Regions from separate parts of the Homo sapiens genome. Here all the other regions are linked to region 3. The links come from fine-mapping of genetic effects on gene expression. A gene starts in region 3. Each other region holds a variant in brackets. All regions are shown on one strand. Distances are from middle to middle. Region 1 overlaps CLEC2A (C-type lectin domain family 2 member A). Region 2 overlaps LINC02470 (long intergenic non-protein coding RNA 2470). Region 3 holds the start of CLEC2B (C-type lectin domain family 2 member B). Region 4 overlaps LINC00987 (long intergenic non-protein coding RNA 987).

Region 1 (5,162 bases), 42 kb before region 3:
AAATGATTATCACACTTCAAGATTGAAAGAAGAGCTAATTATGCAAAAGTGGCTTTCTCACTTATTCTGTTACAGAATACGGAACCTCTGGTGAGGGCCCATTTTCTAGTTTATAGATGGAAACTTCTTGCTGTGCCCTGCCATGGTTAAAGAGACAAGGCCGTTCTCTGGAGCCTTTTATAAGGGCACAATCACATTTACTATGGCTCCATCCTCATGAACTAATCACCTCCTGATGGATGGCTCCATCCCCTAATACCATCACACTGGTGATTAGCTTTCAATTTATGAGTTTTGGGAGGACCCAAATACTCAGAACATAGCATCTACAAATAATAAACACTGATAAATTATGAGTTATACATAAAAATTATAACATACTATATAGACTAGAGTAATAAATATCAAAGTGACCAAATAGTAGGTTCGTGAAAAAAAAAATGCAATCTCCCAAGTAAGAAAAAGGAAAGAAAATTAATTTGGGGCACATATTTGGATGCTTCATAAAATTTAAATTCTATAGGGCATTCAAAGGTTGTATCAAAGCTGCCTTGTTGCATTAGTGCAGTTTTAATTACCTGCCTGGGTAACTGTGATCTTTCAGAACAAGTAGGAATGTGAGTATAAATGGATAGATAGTAAGAAAAACTAGAGAAAAAAAAGTATCTTGATTACAGTGTGAAAATGAGACAGGCAGGTGGGAAGCAGTGCCCGGGAGAAACTCCCACCAGTCTGCCCACTGAGGTGGAGCCTTGGGAAGTTCACAACTTTTGCAGCAAAGAAGAGCGAGCACGGTCCCTCCTCTTCCTGTGTGGAACCTGAGATTAGAATGGTCAGCAGGAAGTGCTCTAGCAGAGCATCCTGTTTTCCTTTTTTTTTTTTTTGCTTTTCACCCAATAAAACCCAGATTTACTCATCCTCTAAAACATCTGTGAGCATAGATTTTTATGGACATGGGCAGGACAAGAACACCATCTTTAGCTGAACTAAGGAAAAGTCCTGCAACAATTTTGGCACATAACATGGGTGCTCGAGAAGAGGCGAATGAAATGAGGACTCGAAACCTCTCACTGTCGCTCCTATTTTCATCCTCCAGCTTCTGAGGGTGGGGGAAACATGCCCCCAAACCCTGTCACTCTAAGGGTCAGGGGAAAGGCCATTTTCTTCCTTTTTCAAGAGGGACAGGCAAGTGGGGTCTCCTCACTCTGCCTCCCCTCCATGCAGGGGTTGGGACTCACGGCCTAAGGGTCCTGCAGAGCCAGCTGGCTGGCTCCCAGCCATAAGCCACCACAGCCTTCCCCTTCCCCACCCAAGGGCTTCAGCTTTATTGGATGAAAATTAAGCTTTTCCCCTGGTGGAGCATCCACTTTCATAAGAATAAGAGGTTCTTCCCCAGGCATTTTAAACTGATTTTTTTATCCCCTTCTTCTACCCCATCAGCAGTTAACCTTTACATTTTTTTTTCCTTTTAGAGGACATTTTTACAAGGCCAGGCCCCCCAACTATCACTGTTTGTACTCTCTAAAGTTTTTGTTGTGAAAAAGGATTTGTGGGGCTAGTCTTGGGCTATAGCCAATCTGGTGTGCTTTGCATGTCTGTATGGTTTGTGTTGCAGGCCTCCATCTTGCTTTACATCCTGGGGGCATGGCCAGTAACTGCATGACAAGGCTTTGTTTAGCAGCCCTGCCTTAGGTGATGAGATATCTAACCCTATCAGGTTAGATATCTACATGTTCTCCTAGCCCTGTCTCTTAAAAAAAATGGGCCCAGGGACTGGGTTTTCTTCTGCCTGTCTGTGTGTATACTGTGTGTGATGTTTACAAAAAGAGCTCTAATTAATTTGTCCTAAAGAAAAGTGCTTGGATCAAGTATTTTTTTAAGGGGAAGATAAAAGCTGTGGTACTTTCAGTTCACATGACTTTAATCTTTGAGAAATAAAAACAGCCTTAAAAATTATTGGTAAAATGCAGGTGTCACTAAAATGTAAATAGGTGAGCTAAATTATGCAGGTTGGAGTCAAGGTTTGCTAAATGTTTTAAGGTTATAAACTACTTTTGGGGTTTTGAGAATTCTTGGACTTGCTGGCTTCACAACTGGTAAGGTCTGGCAACATATGGAACTAATCACACCA[T/C]TAATTCATGCCAGAGAGGATAAATTCCTCTTCAAAGGGCTTAATTGTGCAATGTCCTTGTTCTTTGCTCAGAGGCTCAACCTTCTTGTACTCTCTTCTTTCTAGCCTGCAAACAGCCCTCCTGCTCTTGCTGTGCCCTGACATGCCTAGACATGTCAGCCTCACTCTACATTCCTTTCCTTATTTGGAAAAAGTTTAGCCTTATTCTCCACAGGTGGCCCTCTTCTCTTCCCTCCTTCTCCCCCATCACTCATCTACCTTACATAGAAGGTTTAAGTGTTTAGCCAATCAGGACTAGTTTAGGTTGTGTGGTCTTGACTCCAGCCAATGGGGAACTACACAGAAGCAGGGACCGTGTTAGGAATAAAAACTCTTACCCTCCTTTGTTCAGTGTGCTGCATGGCTGATGCAGGCAGCACCCTTCTGCAGAAGTAAATTGCCTTGCTGAGAAATCCTTTGTCTCAGTGCTGGTTCTTCTTTGCAGCACAGAGCACTTGTTTCTAACAATCATAGGGGCTCATCAGGGATACCCTTTCTCCTCTGGGGAAGGGTCCCAGATCATCTCCCATGAGGAGATGCGTCACACTCTCTCGTTGCGTTGGCCTCAGAGGGAAAGGGATCAGGACCTCCCCCAGCATGACGAATAAACCCACACTCTCAGCAACGTGGGTGGAAAGGATTCTTACCTACCTACCACGGCAACCAGGTAACTCTATGCACAGGACAAGGTAAGAAATGTTGCAGGGGCAATAAAGTATTTCCTTGGAGGTCGGGATATCTTGGAGGTTGAAAGTGTGTGAATGGTAACGAGCACTACTACTGTGCTGAGTGAGTACAAAACAAAAGGAGAAGATTGCAAGAAACATCCAGTAAAAGGGGAGCTAAGCTTCTAGGAGAAGAAAGGCAAGAAATCTCTAGTAGGAGAGATTGAGACTCACACACAGCTTCTAGAAGAAGGGAGGGCAAGAAATCTCTAGTAGGAGAGGTTGAGCCCCCACACACCCAGAAGCATTAGAAACCTCCAATAGAGGGGAGGTTGAAAACTCCAGGGAAAAAGCCTGCTCCAGTTAGACACCATACCAAACCTCCAAGATGGGAAATGTTTCAAATAAGACAGGGAAAATAAAGAGCCAGGCAGATGATGAAATTCCTCCTGATAGTTGCCTAGGGATTATGCTAAAATATTGGTAAGATAATAAAAGAACCAAACATAAAAGAAAGCAGCAAATGATAAAGTATTTTTGCTTCATTTGGGCTCGAGAGCCAATCCTCAAACCCTCAATTTTCTGGCCAAAATTTGGGTCCAGTGAAGAATGGATTTGTTAACTTTTAATGGAACATATTAATGACAAAAGCCCTGTGTCTCTGGAGGATATAGAGTATGCTCTTTGTTGGAGGCAAGGACCTGTCCTCCTTTACCCTCTAAAAATCAGAGGGAGCAAGCTAGAATCTTACTGCTCTGAAAGAGAAAAGGTCCCTATTCCTAGACAGCCCATCAACACATGGGATCCCCTAGACCATCTTCCTCCACTCAATACCCCCAATTCTCCCCCTCAAGCAGCTGTTGCCACCTCAGACCCCACTCCAGATCCCTCCCCTGCTCACATTGTTCCCCACCCCTTACAACCCCAATTCTTGGGAATTATCATCCCATGAGCCAGCTCCTTACCAGCCTAAATACTCTTCTCTAAAAGGACTCCAACGTGAGGTAGAGCAATGTAAAAAGGATATTCAAAACTTCCCTTTATCCCCTATCCCTGGGGAATCAGCTCTGACTCTCTGCCCCTTAAAAGAGGTGCTGCAGGGAGGGGGTGCCATCAGCTTCATAAATGCTCCTCTAACCAGTTCAGAAGTTCCAGGCTTTAAAAAAGAACTCAAGCCGCTGTGAGATGACCCTCATCGAGTGGCAGATCAGGTCGGTGATCAATTTCTAGGACCCCAGTTATATACTTGGGCTGAGTTAATGCCCATCCTGGGCATCCTGTTTTCAGGGAGAGAAAGGGGCATGATCCTTAGGGCCACTATGGTAGTTTGAGAACATGAACACCCCCCAGTTAAAACGTTTCTACAGCAGACGAGGAATTCCGTGCCCAAGATCCCTGGTGGGACAATAACAACATAGCTCACTGGAAAAACCTGCAAGACCTGAGGGAGATGATGATAAAAAGAACTCAAGAATAAGTACCCTGGACTCAGACTCTGTCTCAGACACTCAGCACACAACAGGGGAAGGATGAAGAGCCTATAGAATTCTTAAACAGATTAAAGGAGCAAATGAAAAAATAAGCAGGCCTAGATTTATAAGATCCCCTAGGACAAGGAATGTTAAAGCTTCATTTTTTTACTAATAGTTGGGCAGACATTTCCAAGAAATTACAAAAGATAGAGGATTGGAAAGATCATCCTCTAAGTGAATTTCTCAGAGAAACTCAAAAGGTATATGTGAGAAGATACGAAGAAAAGCAAAAAGTGAAAGCAAAATTCATGCTATCCACCTATCAACAGGGGGCTCCAAATCAATACATTTCTAAACAAAGCCCCCAGGGGGCCAAAATCTATAAATGACCCAAACCTCCATTTAGAGGCTTCAAGCCCCCTATTAAAGGATCCGGGACCTCATTTGCCAGACCCTATAAAGAACACAGGGGGGCCAAGCCAAAGAATCCCAAAACAGAGAAAAGACAGAATAGATGTTTTAAATGTGGAAGAACAGGTCTCTTTAAGAGGGAATGTCCCGCATGGGAAAAATAAAAAGAAGTCCTTCCACTCATGACTTTTGAGGAAGAATAGGGGGGGCCAGGGGCTCTGTCTCTTTTATCTCAAGTCCCACCAAGAGCCCTTGATAAACTTAGAGGTGGGACCCAAATATGAACTCATAACGTTTTTAGTAGATTCAGGAGCAGCCCGCTCCTCTGTTTCCCTCCATCTGATATCACCTGCTCCTCAGAACTTTCTGTCTCAGGGGTAAAGGGAGAAGGATTTAAAGCTAAAATCTTAGAAGAAACAGAAGTCAGTATAAAAACCGATCAAC
Region 2 (5,118 bases), 72 kb before region 3:
GAAGGCACATGACACGCCCCTGGGGGCCATCTGGCCCAAGTCCACCTGCGCGGCTGAGTGGAGGATGCTAGGTTGCTGTGCTGTTTCTCCTACTGTCTTGCTGCCGCACCACCCCTCAGAAAAACCGGGTCGTCAGTTTCCTGCGGTTTGCACTCACCAAATATACTTAGCAATTTGCAATTCACCCGCAGGATTATTCCAGCCTCTGTGATCACACACAGAAGGATGAGCCTTCCTCGTGAGGGTTGGAGATGGAGGGAGAAGGGATGGAGAGTAAGGATGGGACGGAGGTTGTGGAGCAGCAGACCAACACGCCAGGTGGGTGAGGTTGTGTGATTATTCTAGCATCTTTTCTTGATCCTAGCTTGCACCCTTTTAGCATTGGGAGGGAAGGGCAGGGTAGGGGATAGCGACCATAATATAGATCTTAAGTAAAAGCAGTTTTCATTAATAAAACAAAGACTTCAATAATAATGATAATTGGCGATTCCAGCCTCCTCCATCATATTGGAAAAGACAGTATTTCATTAAAAATACTTGGAATTTTCCCTTGGAAAAGGCAGTATTTTATTAAAAGACGCTGCGAGGAAACTGTTGGTTTTCTGTTCTGGAAGCAGGGCAGAAGAATTAGTAACACAGTTCTGCCAAATAGCACAGGAAAGTGGAGCCAAAGCACCTTCGAGGCTCCTGATGTTCAAACGTTAGGTCTTAGTTCCCTTTCTTATTTTTCTAATACATTAATTGCTGAATTGTGAACAGTAGAACACGCGGAAGATAGAGAAAAGAGATAAACATGATGGGTTTTTTGTTGGTTTGCTTGCTTTTTTTCTCTCTGGAACATAAACAATGACATCTGTTTCTCTTTGGTATAATAGAAAGGAAAATAATGATCATCTCAATTTTTATATGTGGAGGCATTGCTTTTCTTCTTTGGGGGATTTTAAGATTTCCCAGAAAATGTAAGTAAACAATTTCTGCTAAAATTATTAAATTAAATTGTTAAAATTATTGTATTATTGATTCAGTTGGATACCAATAACTAGTCTTTCCTTCCTTAATATAGAACAATTTAGAGATAAAAGCATTTTCCAAGACAGTGCATCTAATTGCTCTTCAAACTTAGTCACCTGCTTCACCTTCTAGAATAATCAGTCTTTCAATAAATATGTATCAAGCTTTAGGCACAGTGCTGCCTGCTGATGATATAACAATGAAAAAAAATGGTATTTCTTGCCTGAAAGTAGTTTATCTTTAACTGAATATGGAAGCATGTAAGCAAACAACTGTAACACAAAAGAAATAATTACTAAATAGAACTATGTTGAATTTGAAGCAGGAGAGGAGATTATAAGTTAGCTGCTTGTAGTCAAGGCTTTAATGAAGGGAGAAATATTTGTGCTGAATCTTAAACTCAAGTAGGCGTTTATCAAAGATCATCTTAGAACACACATGTCAGAGAATCACACCAGGTATAATTATGATGGAGTTACAAAGAAGTAGGGTGAGGGACTGGCAATTGTATTATAGTTCCCTAGTGCATTAACTCTTTCACTGCCATTCATTAGCAATTTATACCTTGTCCTTCATCTCCATTCTCCTCATGCTCATTCTCATGTCTATACCCTTGCTTCCAACTTGTTCTAATTTTAACAATTTGTAGGAAACTTCCAAATGCTCCCATCACCACACCAGCTTACTTACTCCATCTCTGCCCCTACACTCTGCCTAGACTCCTGGAACTGTAGATGCAGTATTCATGTTCTACAATAGATCCTATATTCTTTCACTGGATCAGTAATATCACCCTAGTAATTCTCCACTCTCCTACATTATCCTTTTTTCATCCTCAACTGAAACATCTCCATCAGCAAATATGACATACTGGTATCTATATCAACCTTGAAAAAATAAACAACAAAAACAACAGAATTTATTAGACCCCACTTATCTTTTAGCAACCAATTTATTGTTTTTCTCCTTGGTACAGCAACCTCTTTAAAACGGCTTTTCAAAATAATTTTTTATCTTTCCTTTTTCTGTTAAATCCACTTGGATCAAGCTTCCACTCTGCTTTTTCCACCAAACTTGTCTTTCAAGTTCACCAATAACTTCCATATTGCTAAATCGACTGGTCCATTCTCCCTCCTCACCTTATTATATAACCTATTTGCAGCTTTTGGCACTCCCTTTTTCTAAAAAAAAAAAAAAATTTCATTTGACTTACATGACGCCATATTCTTGTGGTTTGCTTTCTACTCATTTTACCAACAACCGTGATTCCCTGATTCTCCTTCACTCTGATCTATTTTACGACAAACTATATAATTTCAGACGCATAAGTCCCATAAGAGTAGGTATTTCTGTATGTTATGTAGGCTATTCATAGAGTTACAAAAATGTCTGGCGTGTAGCAGGTGCTCAATCGGTAGTTGTTGACTG[C/A]GTAAATGAAAGAATGAATTAATTAGTAAATGAATGAGAAAACTGCCTTTCTGGTGACCCAAGTTTTGAATTAAGTATTTGGTTTTTATATTGGTTATTGATTTGAATTTGACATTTTAAAATAATTTTGAACATGACACATTCAAATAACTTTGATAACTTGATTTTTTCACTTCACTCTCAGGTCTCAACTATATAGAACCATATTGCCAGTTGATCCTTCCCATTGAGGATTTTCCCACTCACAGATTTGAAGATGAACCAGTCATTTATTTTAGTTGTGGATAGGAGGTGCTCTCAGAGCTTGTTTCTTTCAGGATTATACCTTAACAAGGAACTTCCTTTATCTAGTGCAGTAACTTAAGGAGTAAAAGTGGAGAGTAAAAAGGGAAATTTTAGCATTCTTTTTTCTGTGTTTCTTGTTTCATAACGGACAAGGAAACAGCGCCACCTTCTAGAGAAATGCTGTCTTTGAAAGACAATATAGTCTCAGTTAAGTTGATGATAGGAACCAGCTCACTGAAGTTATGAATATAGAAAAATTTGTTTATTTACACTGCAACTTGTTCTAGAGAGCATAGTAAATTTTAGGAAAGAAATAGATGAATAAAGAAAATTCATGTAGTCTAAAAATTAGGAGGGAAAATGGCTGGAAGATACTGAATTTCTGGAAGTTTGTTATTGAGTTTTTAAATTTTTCATAGCTCTCATTCTCCAGTGCTTATTCCTTTCATGTTCTCTTCTCGATATTCAATTTTTTTGAATTGATGTTTAAAGTTAAGTCATTCAAATTGAATATGTAAGTAAAACACATTTTATTAGTCTGAGCTATATAATAATATTTTACTCTGAAGCTCACTCTTTCTTTCTTTGATACTTTCTTTATTCTTTTTCTCTATTACCTGTTAATTTCAGTTGGAATTCCAAGGCACCTTAGAAACAAGACATGCCTAGAAAATTTGACTATGTGTCCACAAGGCTGGAACTGAATCAATAATAATTGCTTCTTTCAATCTGAACATGAAACAACGTGGATCAATGGCTGAGAAAACTGCAGAAGTTATGGATCTCTGGCCAGGCTCAACTCTCAGAATGAAATGGTTAGATTTCTTCTTTGCAATATTAAACTCATTTAATAGCTACTAAAAGACAGGCACACTCCTAGGGTGTAATACATTAGCAAACCAAAGAATCAAAGATCTTTGCCCTTGTGGAGTTTACATGCTAGGGGAAGAGATAAGCAATGAAAAATTATCTTATTAAATATGTAATTTATATATTGTGTTAGAAGTTGGAAAGTTTTATGCAAAAAAATGAAAATTAAGGGAGTGGGTTTACTGCAGGTAAGGTTATATCCCAATAAGATGGTGACATTTTAGGAAGGATGTGAAGCAGGTAAGGGACTATCTAGAAGTGAACTTTCCAGGAAAGGAAAATGGCTGGAGCGTGTGTCTTAAGGCCAGTGAATGTCTGGAATATTCAAGGAACAGAAAAGAAGCAGCCAGTCAATCTATCTAAAATGAGGGATTGAGTGAAGAATGCGGATCATTAGGGTCTTGCAGGCTATTGTAAAGAGTTTAGTTTTTGCTCCAAGCAAAATAGGGAGATACTGCCAAATTATGAGGGAAAATGTAATAGGATCTGACTTAAGTTTTAAAAGAATCATAATCTTTGCTGTGATGAGGTTGGCTACTGAGTCTCAAATGTAAACGGAGGGAATCATGTTATACGGCCTTTGCAGTAACTGTGCAAGATAATAATAGACTTAAAGGGCACTGGAGGGAGTGAGAATGAGAAAACTAGAAGAAATCTATGACAGCACTCTGTATTTTGTAAAGGGAATCTTTGATGCATTATCTGGGGCCGTCTTTATATTGGTTTGAACTGAGCAAGCACAATGCAAACAAAACGTGGATGTGGGCAGATGGAGCTACATTCAGCAATTGGTAAGCCTTACTAACATGTATTTACTATTAAATGTGTAAAGCGTGGTAAAGATTCTGAGTCTATAACTGGCTTCCTCCATAGATTCCTCCACATCATCCCCCCAAAAGACCCTCAAAAAATAGATGCCAAAGAGAATATTTAGACAAAGTTACGGTTTTTAGTGAGGGTTTGGCATCACATATCAATATTTATGTATATATATGGAATTGGTATATACCACATGTGAGTCACAAGTGTTCCCTTTATCCTGAACTGGATGCAAGTCTAAGCAGTTTGATCCTTTCCTCTTTGGACCTGGGACCTTGCCTTTTGTTTTTGTTTTTTTTGTTGTTGTTCCTTTGGCCTTTCATTGATGGGAGAGCATTAGAGAGTGTACTGAAGCCTACACTTTCCGCACCCACCAGTGGCCTGACATGCACAAGAGTAAGTTAAGAAGAGAACGTGTTTGCCTCAGTTTACCTTTGTTTAAAATTCAAGAACTTCTTTATATTCCATAGCTTGAAAAAACTCATCATACACTTAGAATCTATTTTGTTCTTAAAACACTTACAAATTTCTCCAACGTCAGGGTGGAGAAGGTCATATAAAGGATATTGAGTTCTCAGTATTCTTTGGTGAACTAAAGGTGACCACTAGCTACCATTTATTGACTGCCCACTTTGTAATAGATACTGGTTCTGTAGCACTCCATGCCAGATATTACATGTTGTATATAATATAATAAAGTTAGTA
Region 3 (5,162 bases):
CACAGTATTTTTCCAAGTTATTAAATTCTGTATTGCAACTGAATGCCCTAATGTTGATAAAATCTCCCTTATCCAGCTTTATGTTTCTCTCATGATCTAGCACCCTCAGAATCCAATCCCATTGTGTACACTCCAAGCTGTTGTTATTATATATTGGTTAGGTCCAAATTCATTCTGAGTATAGCCCTTTCTCTCCCTTATAAGCTTAGCACATAACCTTAGTTATTGGCCTTATGACCAATAACTAAGAAAGGCAAGTAAGGGAGGGATTCCTGTAAGGAGGGTGTGAAGGGCACAATATTTTCTTTAAGGAAAAAGGCATGACCTCGACAAGGGAGAACATGTAACTTTGTTAGGATTAGAGAGTCCAACGTTTAGAAGCTTCTAGATTTTTAAAATTTTTGAGAAAAAAAATTGTGAAAAGTCACTATACAAATGATGGAAAGTATTTTTAATACATTTATCTAAAAATGGAATTTTTCTATATTATGTTGCAACCCATTTTACTTATTTATATACACATTTTTATGTGTATGTTTCTCTACATATATATTTACATATATATAAAATCTTAAAAATCACCATAAGGAAACAAATAAATCCATAAAAATGGGAAAAATATTTAAATAGGTCATTGAAAAAAGATATATGAGTTACCAATACGCACGTGAGTAAATGCTCAATATAACATCAGAGATGTACAAATTAAAATCACATTTAGATTCTACTACACGCCTACTAGAATGGTTAAATTGAAAAAGATTGGGCATATCTAATATTGCTATTTATGTGGAGCAAATAGAACCATCCAATATTCATGTTGGGAATGGCACAACTTTTTGGAAAAAAATACATTTATAAAATAAAACATACATTTTCTATGTAACCTAGCAGTTTCACATCCAGGTATTTCTTCAAAAGATTAAAAAACGTGTCAATAGAAAAACTTTTGCATAAATGTTTATTTTGACCTTATGATATCCAAGAAGTGGAAAAAGCTCAATGTCATAATGGATACATTTTATTATAAAATAGATAAAAATATTTTATGTCTGTACAATGAAATACTACTCAGTAATAAAAAGAAATTAACTGCTGATCTGTGCAAAAACATGGATAAAACTCAAAAACATTATGCTCAGTGAAAGACATCAGACTTACAAGAATTGCCAACTGTATCATTCTGCTTAACAGGAATTTCTAAAACCAGCAAAGCTCATGTTTATTGACAGTAAGTTGGCTGCTGCCTGGCTTCAGGGGTGAGGATGAACTGCAAAGCAACAGCGGGGAACATTTCCCTGTGTTGAAAATGTTTTATATCTTAACTGTTGTATCTTGACTGTTTTCCTTTTTGGAACAAAACTAAATTTCACTCAACCATACTTGAGTAATCTCTATATTTTTCTATACATGCTTTTCTAATAGTTCTTTGGATACAATCTTTTGTTAACAACAAAGGTAGAATATATTCATTTCCTCATGAATTTTCTGTCTTTTTTTTCTGTCCAAAAATGAAAAGAGCAATTTTGTTATCTGTCCTTTCCTTCTGCCCAGAAATGATTAAACCTGTATTTCTTATTCTCTTCATATTTTCTTTGTTTTAATTCCTTTGTACTACAGTTTCTTCTCTATTCTCATTTGCTTTTCCTCTTCAAGTTTCTCTCTCAGAACAAATGCAGTGTTAATCCCGAAGCCGCTTGCGGGACACTGGCTTCTTCTCCTCAGTTTCCTCCCTAATATATTTGTTGAGGGGTAATACAAAATCACTGGGAAACTGATTAGAGCAGATTTGAAGACAAAATTGTGGCCTGGTAACTTAGCAAAAGCATAATGGTGTCATCTTGTATGCTGATGATAACGTTCTGGGCACTTTGTTACTTTCGTTTTCTTTTTTCCCTCTGTGTGTCTTTGTGTGTGTTTGTGTGTGTGCTCACACCCACACGTGTGACTTTGCACGCATTTGTCTTTGAGAGAGAGATAATAGTTTTTGTTTTTCTTTCAGTAGCCAAAGTTTAAACCATTGCTTTTTCTTTGATTCTATCGCTTTTAAGGTGATCTTTCTTAACACAGGATAAGAAAGCAGTAATGTCCTAAAGAATGCTGTTGAATTAATTAGTATCAGCCTCTCCTACAGTTCTGGAAGGATACGTGGTTAAGTACCACTCCTGGATGAATCAGAAAAACAGCCACTTGAGCAATTTCGTGTTCTGTGGTTCAGATGAGAATCCCAGTTGAGAAAGTAAGAAAATATGTGTTTATTCTTCAGCTTTAAATTGTTATATCACAAACTTCCTTCCTCCTTGGCAAGCTTTCTTTTTTGACGAGAAGAAAATTGTAATAAACAACAGTATGACTAATAGATAGTCACATGGTTACTTCCAGTTTGCAAAATGCTATTTATACTTTGAGTTACTCTTCAAAAGTGGTATACCTCTAGTTTGGAGCTGTGCTGTAAAAACAAGAGTAACATTTTTATATTAAAGTTAAATAAAGTTACAACTTTGAAGAGAGTTTCTGCAAGACATGACACAAAGCTGCTAGCAGAAAATCAAAACGCTGATTAAAAGAAGCACGGTAAGAACATTTTTGTTTGTTTAGAATGACCGTTATTTATTGAAATTGTGATGCAGAATGTTAAAGCCTTCGAGAAAAGAATTAAATTTTGTGGTTTCTTTTGTGAAACTAGAAAATTCCTTCTTATAACAAGATTGAGATTTGCATATGACTGTTTTGTCCTAATAAATTCAGACTTACTTTACATTATTTGAATTACAATGGAGAAGGATTAACCATGACTTAAAACTGCTCAAGATTTAGTTTCATTTTTACTAAGTATTTTATAAAACAAATACTTGAGAAGATGATAGATATGATCCAGATACTCATACAGTTCTCAGAATGCATACATAATATGATAAATTTAGCCAATAGTTCTAATATTTTTAAAGATTGCTTTATTGGATGGTGTAAAGATACTCCGGGCTTTAGGAGTACTTAACGGAAAGAATATATCCCTTTCCTACTCTTACTAAGGAATTGCTAGTACTCCGATATCCATGGAGATGTCTTTACCAACCCTAAGAAGGATAAGGAAAGAAAATGTTCTAAAAAATACACTATGAAACAACCTGGTAACATTGGATTTATTAAATAGCAAGTTCGGAATATATAAGATCCAAGCTACATCTTTGAGATTTCAACAGGGTTTATTTATGTCAAAATATTTGAAAGAGAAAAGGCTGAAACTAAATGCATTCAATACAACGATCTATGATTTAGAGATTTAGGGACTGTGATGAGCTTTAAGCATTTCCCGTTTAACTAAATGTCAACCTACCAGCGTATGCTACGGTCAAAAAAATTATTGCTGTGGTACAATAGAATGCACACTTTATCCTTCCTCCCGTATTTTAACCGGTTTTATAATTCTGCCTAAAGTTAGATAAAACAGGTTTGCGGGGAATGAGATCAATATTTGATGGTAGCATAAAATATCATTTTAATCAAAAGTTTTAAGAAGGCCTTCCAGCCACTAGTAAAACCAGTGTTATTTTCTACTTTCAATCAATTGTATAAATTTATACATTTGTATATAAATACATTATATAATACAATATTATATATCATATTACATATGAATATATTTTAAAAGTTACTGAATAATATATTCAGTATAATATTGTATATATTATAGATACATATATATCTGAAATTATGAACATCGTTTTAATAGCGGTAATTTAGGGCAGTGTGATATAATTCAGTCAGTTTTTATATACATTTTAACAAATATTTTATTTGCTCTGCTTATCAGTATTTTATGATTTTTTTCTATAGCTATTAGCCAAGAAAAATAATATTCTGTTTGATTTTAAATGCATTGGTCACTCTGCATCTTTCTTATCTTTCCTTAGAGAGCAGAATCAAACAGAAAACAGTTGAGTCACTGAAACTTTTCTATGGGGAAAACAATTGCAGTCCTTAACTGTTTAGATTATACATTTAAATATAGAACTATTTTAGTTACACTGTTAATTAAATCCATTGTTCTCGAACTGTCTGGGGAAGTGTCCTTTTAAGCATAGCCTCATCAAACGTTAAGAAGGCTCAACAACTTTGAAATTCATGTTTCGATATCAGCTTCATCGTGGGAGATCACAATTTTTTAATTTGTTTGAAAGGCAGCTATGCTAACCACATTCTACCAATGCCACTAATTTTTCTGATAACTCATGTAAATAATTACAGCCTCCTAAATAAGTATTGAGAATTCAGTAACAATGAAAAGATTCTGGGAAATTAAAAACAACTGAAAACAACTTATGCTGAGTGTAAAAAGCTAGATTTCAGGGTTCACGATATAGATTAAGTAGAGAATGAACACATAATAGGTTTAAATTTGTACCTACATATTCAGACATGCAATAAATGTTGAATTCATTAGTTATTTAAATAAAATTAAATGTTACTTCAAGTCTCCATCCCACTGAATGGACAGGACAGTTTACTTACTTTCTGTCATTTGGTGGTATTGAGAGTGAGAGATTTCTTCCAAGGTTATATGAAGTTTCCCAGGTTGTATAAGACACCAAAGTGTTATAATGGTCTCCATTCATCAGTTTCCACTGATTACACCTGAGAAGACCATGTTCCAATATAAATGACCTCTTCGGGTCTAGCTCTGCTATTTTGTGCTGAACTCATAACAAAAGCCACACTGTTTCTTTGCCACATTTAAAGTACGATCATCTTTTTTGAAGCTGGGGTCATCTGTACGTAAAATCTACCAACTCTGTATACACCACCAAGTCCTTATACTCTAATACCTTGCCAACTTTGCAATGGAAAGGGCTCCTATTTTCCGCTGTATCTGCAAATTGTCATTTCTCATATTGTCAGGATGTGCATTGCCCTTCTCTCTACCTGTTAGCTCGAAGTTATTTCCTCTTTTTAAAATCCCTTCACAATTTTCAGAAACATTACTTCAATAAGCTAGATTTTTTTTTAATTGAAAAGGCCATTGATTTAAGCAGCTTAGGGTTTTCTTTTCAACAGTCATTCTGGAAGAAAGAATATCAAAATGGTCTGACTACCTCCTTCAAATAACAGATATGAAATTGACTCAAAAAATACTTCCACTTGCTGCAAATGTAAATAATCTT
Region 4 (5,162 bases), 620 kb after region 3:
CGCCTGTAATCCCAGCACTTTGGGAGGCTGAGGTGGGTGGATCACGAGATCAGGAGATCGAGACCATTCTGGCTAACAAGGTGAAACCCCGTCTCTACTAAAAATATAAAAAAAATTAGCCGGGTGTGGTGGCGGGCGCCTGTAGTCCCAGCTACTCGGGAGGCTGAGGCAGGAGAATGGCGTGAACCCCGGAGGCGGAGCTTGCAGTGAGCCGAGATTGCGCCACTGCTCTCCAGCCTGGGTGACAGAGCGAGACTCTGTCTCAAAGAAAAACAACAAAACAAAACAAAACAAACAAACAAACAAAGAAAACACTTGTTGAATGAATACAGGATTGAATACATAAAATGCAAAACTTCAGTCCTCACAGGGCAGTAAAATTCCAGGAAAATTTGAAGTTGTCTTTCATTAAGAAAAGATTAACAAAACTTGTATTAGAAATGTTAAGATGTCTTAAAAATGTAATTCTTTAGTATTAACTATAACTGAGCAGAATTATCCAGGTCGTGAAATTAAATCTTATCACTATCAAAAAGCACTAAAAACTTTCATCATACCTTCAGGAAAATATGTCGTTCATCTGCTAGAGGTCTACAGCTTAGCTGAAAGCAATTTAAATCTCTCTCTTCTGGACGTTCTGGAATCACAAATCAGATGGTAGAAGGATGAAAAGAATACTTCTTGGTTTATTAACCAGCTGTTTAATCTCTAAATATTTATTTCTGGTTTATTTCTTTCTGTTGCGTACACAACCCTCACTGACAACTGTGTTCAAGAGTCCCACAGTTTCCCAAATACTCTGAGATAAAATAGCAAATAATATTTATCTGTGACTAACATTGAAGAAGGGGGAAGCTGGAAACAGGTGGACTGTAGACAACCGTGGGCATCTGAATGTGGGTTTTAGATGCAGACATTTGAGACGACTAGAAGAAACTGAGAAAAAAGAGGAAAGGACCACAGGAACGAGTTAAGCATAGATATTCAGGAAAAGCCATATCTTCTGGTAAAACATAAACAAAACAGAGTTTACTAAGATTGTAAAGAACAACCTCCGATATGCAAACCTTCAATTTAAAATGACAAGAAACAAGCAAAAAAATGCTCTTTGTAATAAAGCCATAAGGAGAGCTGTTTATATGCATACACAGACATAGATATTTGTTTCATGGGGAAAAAGAAGAGAAGAAAACATCTAAGTCTAAAATATTCAGTTTTATGGATGCAAAAAAGAGTTAAAGAGCATTAGATTATACCAGACAATATTTAGAAATAAGAATCAGAAACGGGTTTGAATTCCCACTCCTATTCACTCAATAGCTTAATGAACTTGACCGTCTATGACTCTGTTTTCATATTTATAAATAGCTCTCCTCATTTTGTGTAATTTTCATGATGAGCGTATGAACTATATGTAACATAATAGTGAAAGTACAATACAAATTCAAGAAACTACTTACAGTCTCAAGATTGGATTGCCGCTATGCTTTAACAATTTTTTTCAGTCCATAGGATTAGATATTTTTACCAACTCAAAAATCCATAAGCCAACTTTGTGTCTACCACGAGGATTGCGTATCAGCATAATAGGAGGTAAAGGTGTGATTTATTTGTCTGACAGAATAGAAGAAAAATGGTGCTTTATTGGGTTGGTTTAAGATGAAAACCTGTTTTTCTAAGTATTGGATCTTGAGACTGCAGCAACTTCTTGGTAAGTTAGCCCCAAATAATACTTTTTCCTCAAATAGAGGATTTTTAAGCAATTATTATTTTCTCTTTGACATCAAAATCAACTAACTTTTTGTTTTTGCTTTTAATAGTCTTGCCATTTTAGATCTTCCTTGTCCATGATGGAGTCAATACCTGAATTAGTCAGAATTAGATTCAATGGCAGTAACAAACAAACTCCCACATCTCAGCGGGTAAGCACCTAACGGTTTGGTTTTTGCTCACACAAAATCTACTTGTGAGTTCAGACACTCTCCAGAACAGCCCCGTGCCAAACAGTGAGTCAGAGAGAACCAGTCTGCTTTCCTCTGGTGACTCTGCCATCGCCAACGTGGCTTTCAAGGTCATACCCATGGGGAAGGAGGTTGCACTTGACTCTTAAAGCCAGGAGTGGGAATGGTATACATCACTTCCGCCCATGTTCCTGCCCTGAATGCAAAGGAGGCTGAGAAATGGGAAGGCTCATGTGGATATTAACTGTCTCTGTCATATCTTCTTATGGAAAGAGAAGGGATTTATGTAATATTGAGCAAAAGAGAGTAATGCAACTTTTGGCAGATACGCTACCTCTGCATAGTCTCTTTGTGTGTTTCAAGTATACCTGGAAATCAGGAAATGTTGCAAAAGGCCTAACTCAAAATTCTTTTCTACTGCCATCAGGCCTAGAGAAATTTTTCTCTGCATGCTTGAATGTCTACCAAATTTACTTTTTAATAAAAAATGAGGATGGCAGTAAAAAGTGTTAAAAAAAAAAAAAGAATAAACACATTTTAATACAGCAGATTCACTGCCTGGGAAGGCAAGGAGTAATGTTCTAATTGAAAACAAAGGAGTCATTAAGGATATTTCCTCACCAGAAAAAAAAAAAAAATCCTGTATAGTGAAAAAAGAACACTGTTTTAAGAACAAAGGGACAATTTTTCATCACACTCCTATCTGCTATGACTATGTGACTTTGGAAATTTGCAGACTCACTTAACCTTTTAGAGGCTCA[G/A]TTTCTTTAAATCTGAAGTCAGAATGACAACACCAAACTCACTGAGGTATTGTGACCATAAAATGAAAAAAAAAAAATCATGATTCCTTTAATGGCATGTTTGTTTAAAAAAAAGAAACTGAAAAGCATGATTAATTGACTTTCATTTCACCAAGTGTGTATTTTCTTTCCAACCTAAGAGAAAACAGATCAATGGAAACAAAGGTATGATTCAGAAAACCTGAAAACTCAGAGTACATCGTTACACTTTGACCCCAAATGTTCTGTAATATTCTATGCAAATTTTTCTTTTGGTATTTGTTGCTTATCCTTTTCTTCCTTCTCATTTTCAGTTACAGCACTTTAATCTGTCTGTCATTATTTCATAACTAGATTACTGAAAAACCATTCTAATTTAACTTCCTTGCCTCCAGCTTTTCTTTACCTCTATCTGTCCTGCATACTCTTAAACACTGCTTTTCTCATGTCACTTGTTTCTCAAACATAGTCAATACTTCCAGAATTCATAAGATTATTGCATTTAAGGTTTTGAAAGAGCACATCTAACTCTATTATCTTATATATATATCATATATGTATTTATAATTACACACGTATATAATTATCTTTAAAAAGTGATGCCCCAGAGATCAGAAGATATATTATAGAATAATATTATAATAAAGATATTTAAGATAATGTTAACAATATGTAAAGATTATATATATCTTATATATATGTATATCTTCTGATTTCTGGAATATCAATTTCTTTTTTATCAAGCTAACTAACTCCCACTTAACAGACCTTATTCATTTGTCCTAGCCTTATGTTTTATTATATATTATACCTTCTGTTTACCTAATTATGGGAAACACACCCTGAAAATAGCCATTCTACTCTAGAGGGTAAATTTTTACTATCCCTGTGAAGCACCCTTCCACCTTTGTATATATATTTGCACAGTCCTTTCCTGGGAATAACTCCCCATTCTCCTCCACCTCCCATCCATGAATGATCATCTTAGGTTCCGCTTTGGTAAAGTCTTTTCCGGCCTAACTAAAGTTGATTGTCTTTTCATTCCTGACTCCCTATTGTCTATACTACATACTTTACTGAATCCTGTTGCTTATTGTTTATGTCTCCATATTAATTCAATGTCGAAACAAACAAACAAACAAAAAATCATTCCCGAAATCATCTTGCTTAGCTAATATCCATTCCTCGTTTGATTCTCACTGCAAACAGAAGACATGTGAACACAATTTCAGTGTAAAAGCAATATTTGGTGTATTAAATTACTCTTTATCCTTCCCTTCACCAGTTGAGTAATCATCTTAGAGAGAGCTACATTTGTTTTTTTTTAATCAACTTTTATTTTAGATTCAGGAGGTACATGTACAGGTCATTTGTTTTTATTTATAAAGAAAAATATATTTAGCTCTAGATTCTATTTGAAGAAAAAATAGGATTAGCCTTTTTATAGGAAAGTGAACAAAATAACAAGCTGGTAGGTTAAATTGTTCCAATAATAAACATTCCCTGAGCGTATGACCTTATTCCATTTGAGAAATAAGGCAGCAATAAGAAATTGATGATAAAAATGAGGTTCACACTGAGGCCTGTGTGTTGTCTTCCAGGACCAGGTCTGCGAGGTGTACCCCCAGGAGCCGTAGAAATAATGTACCCAATGATCGAAGAAGAACCTCAGATATTGCAAGTGAAAGAGATAGTCCGGAAGTACTTCCCTGAGACCTGGATCTGGGATTTGGTGGTAGTTGAGTAAGTTGTGTGTTGCCTGGAATTTAGTTTAGGAGAGGGTTTGAATCCTGCTGTATGACTGATGTTATCCTGGATTCCTGATCCTTTTAGTTCTGCTCTGCTCTTTTCTGGTAAATATTTAGGTTTATAGTTCATTTATCTCATAATTAAACAATGCTAATTTTTTTTCTAATTTAGTCTATTGATAACTAAGATAATAGAAAGTAGGATGCTACCAGCCCTCTTAAATAAAGGAAAGGGAAGGGGAGGGGAGGGAGATTGAAAGAAAGAACAAAAGGAAGGAAAGAATGAAAGAAAAGAGGAAGAAATAAAGGGAGGGAGGGAAGGAGGGAGTAAGGGAGGTAGGGAGAAAAAAAACTTTAAACCTCACCAGGAGCACCAACCCTTAGATCAAGTTTAGCATTTACCACACTAGGTTACTGAGTTATCATGTTCTAGGATCAGCCATGCTTTGTGTTAAAAAAAAAAAAAAAAGATTTGCTTATACTCCTCTTCTCTGCTCCTTCACTAGCTCATTAGGTATAAGTGAGCTGGTGACCAGGTCCCTGAAACCATCACAGAGTGGAAGGCCAGCGCATTCTGCTTGTCTGGAACCACAGGGTTTGGCCTCTCTCCTATCGTGTCTCTTCAAGCCTTCCAGCCTTTCTTCCTAGAACTCACCCTTCCTTATTCTGTGGTG

What was found. PIP is the estimated chance that this variant, and not a neighbour inherited with it, causes the effect. A credible set is the group of variants that fine-mapping cannot tell apart.
Region 1: its variant is the best candidate, but not a certain one, in a credible set for the expression of CLEC2B in fibroblasts (GTEx, PIP 0.76).
Region 2: its variant is the best candidate, but not a certain one, in a credible set for the expression of CLEC2B in whole blood (TOPMed, PIP 0.86).
Region 4: its variant is the best candidate, but not a certain one, in a credible set for the expression of CLEC2B in subcutaneous fat (GTEx, PIP 0.77).

The regions. Positions count from the first base shown.
Region 1 is chr12:9,908,388-9,913,549 of GRCh38, reverse strand. It overlaps CLEC2A (C-type lectin domain family 2 member A), which reads left to right. Exons shown (of 5, transcript NM_001130711.2): 5 at 1-323. Among named protein-coding and RNA genes, the nearest start is that of CLEC2A, 21 kb to the left of the region's middle. RefSeq lists an enhancer at 2,181-3,380. The variant T/C (reference allele first, on the strand shown) is at 2,132.
Region 2 is chr12:9,938,330-9,943,447 of GRCh38, reverse strand. It overlaps LINC02470 (long intergenic non-protein coding RNA 2470), which reads left to right. Exons shown (of 5, transcript NR_104634.2): 1 at 1-318; 2 at 876-959; 3 at 3,355-3,539; 4 at 4,278-4,385. Among named protein-coding and RNA genes, the nearest start is that of LINC02470, 2.6 kb to the left of the region's middle. The variant C/A (reference allele first, on the strand shown) is at 2,440.
Region 3 is chr12:9,866,617-9,871,778 of GRCh38, reverse strand. It overlaps CLEC2B (C-type lectin domain family 2 member B), which reads left to right and starts at 2,425. Exons shown (of 5, transcript NM_005127.3): 1 at 2,425-2,574.
Region 4 is chr12:9,241,944-9,247,105 of GRCh38, reverse strand. It overlaps LINC00987 (long intergenic non-protein coding RNA 987), which reads right to left. Exons shown (of 7, transcript NR_137434.2): 3 at 558-637. It also overlaps the pseudogene A2MP1. Among named protein-coding and RNA genes, the nearest start is that of LINC00987, 4.5 kb to the right of the region's middle. RefSeq lists silencers at 1,972-2,021, 2,032-2,081. The variant G/A (reference allele first, on the strand shown) is at 2,723.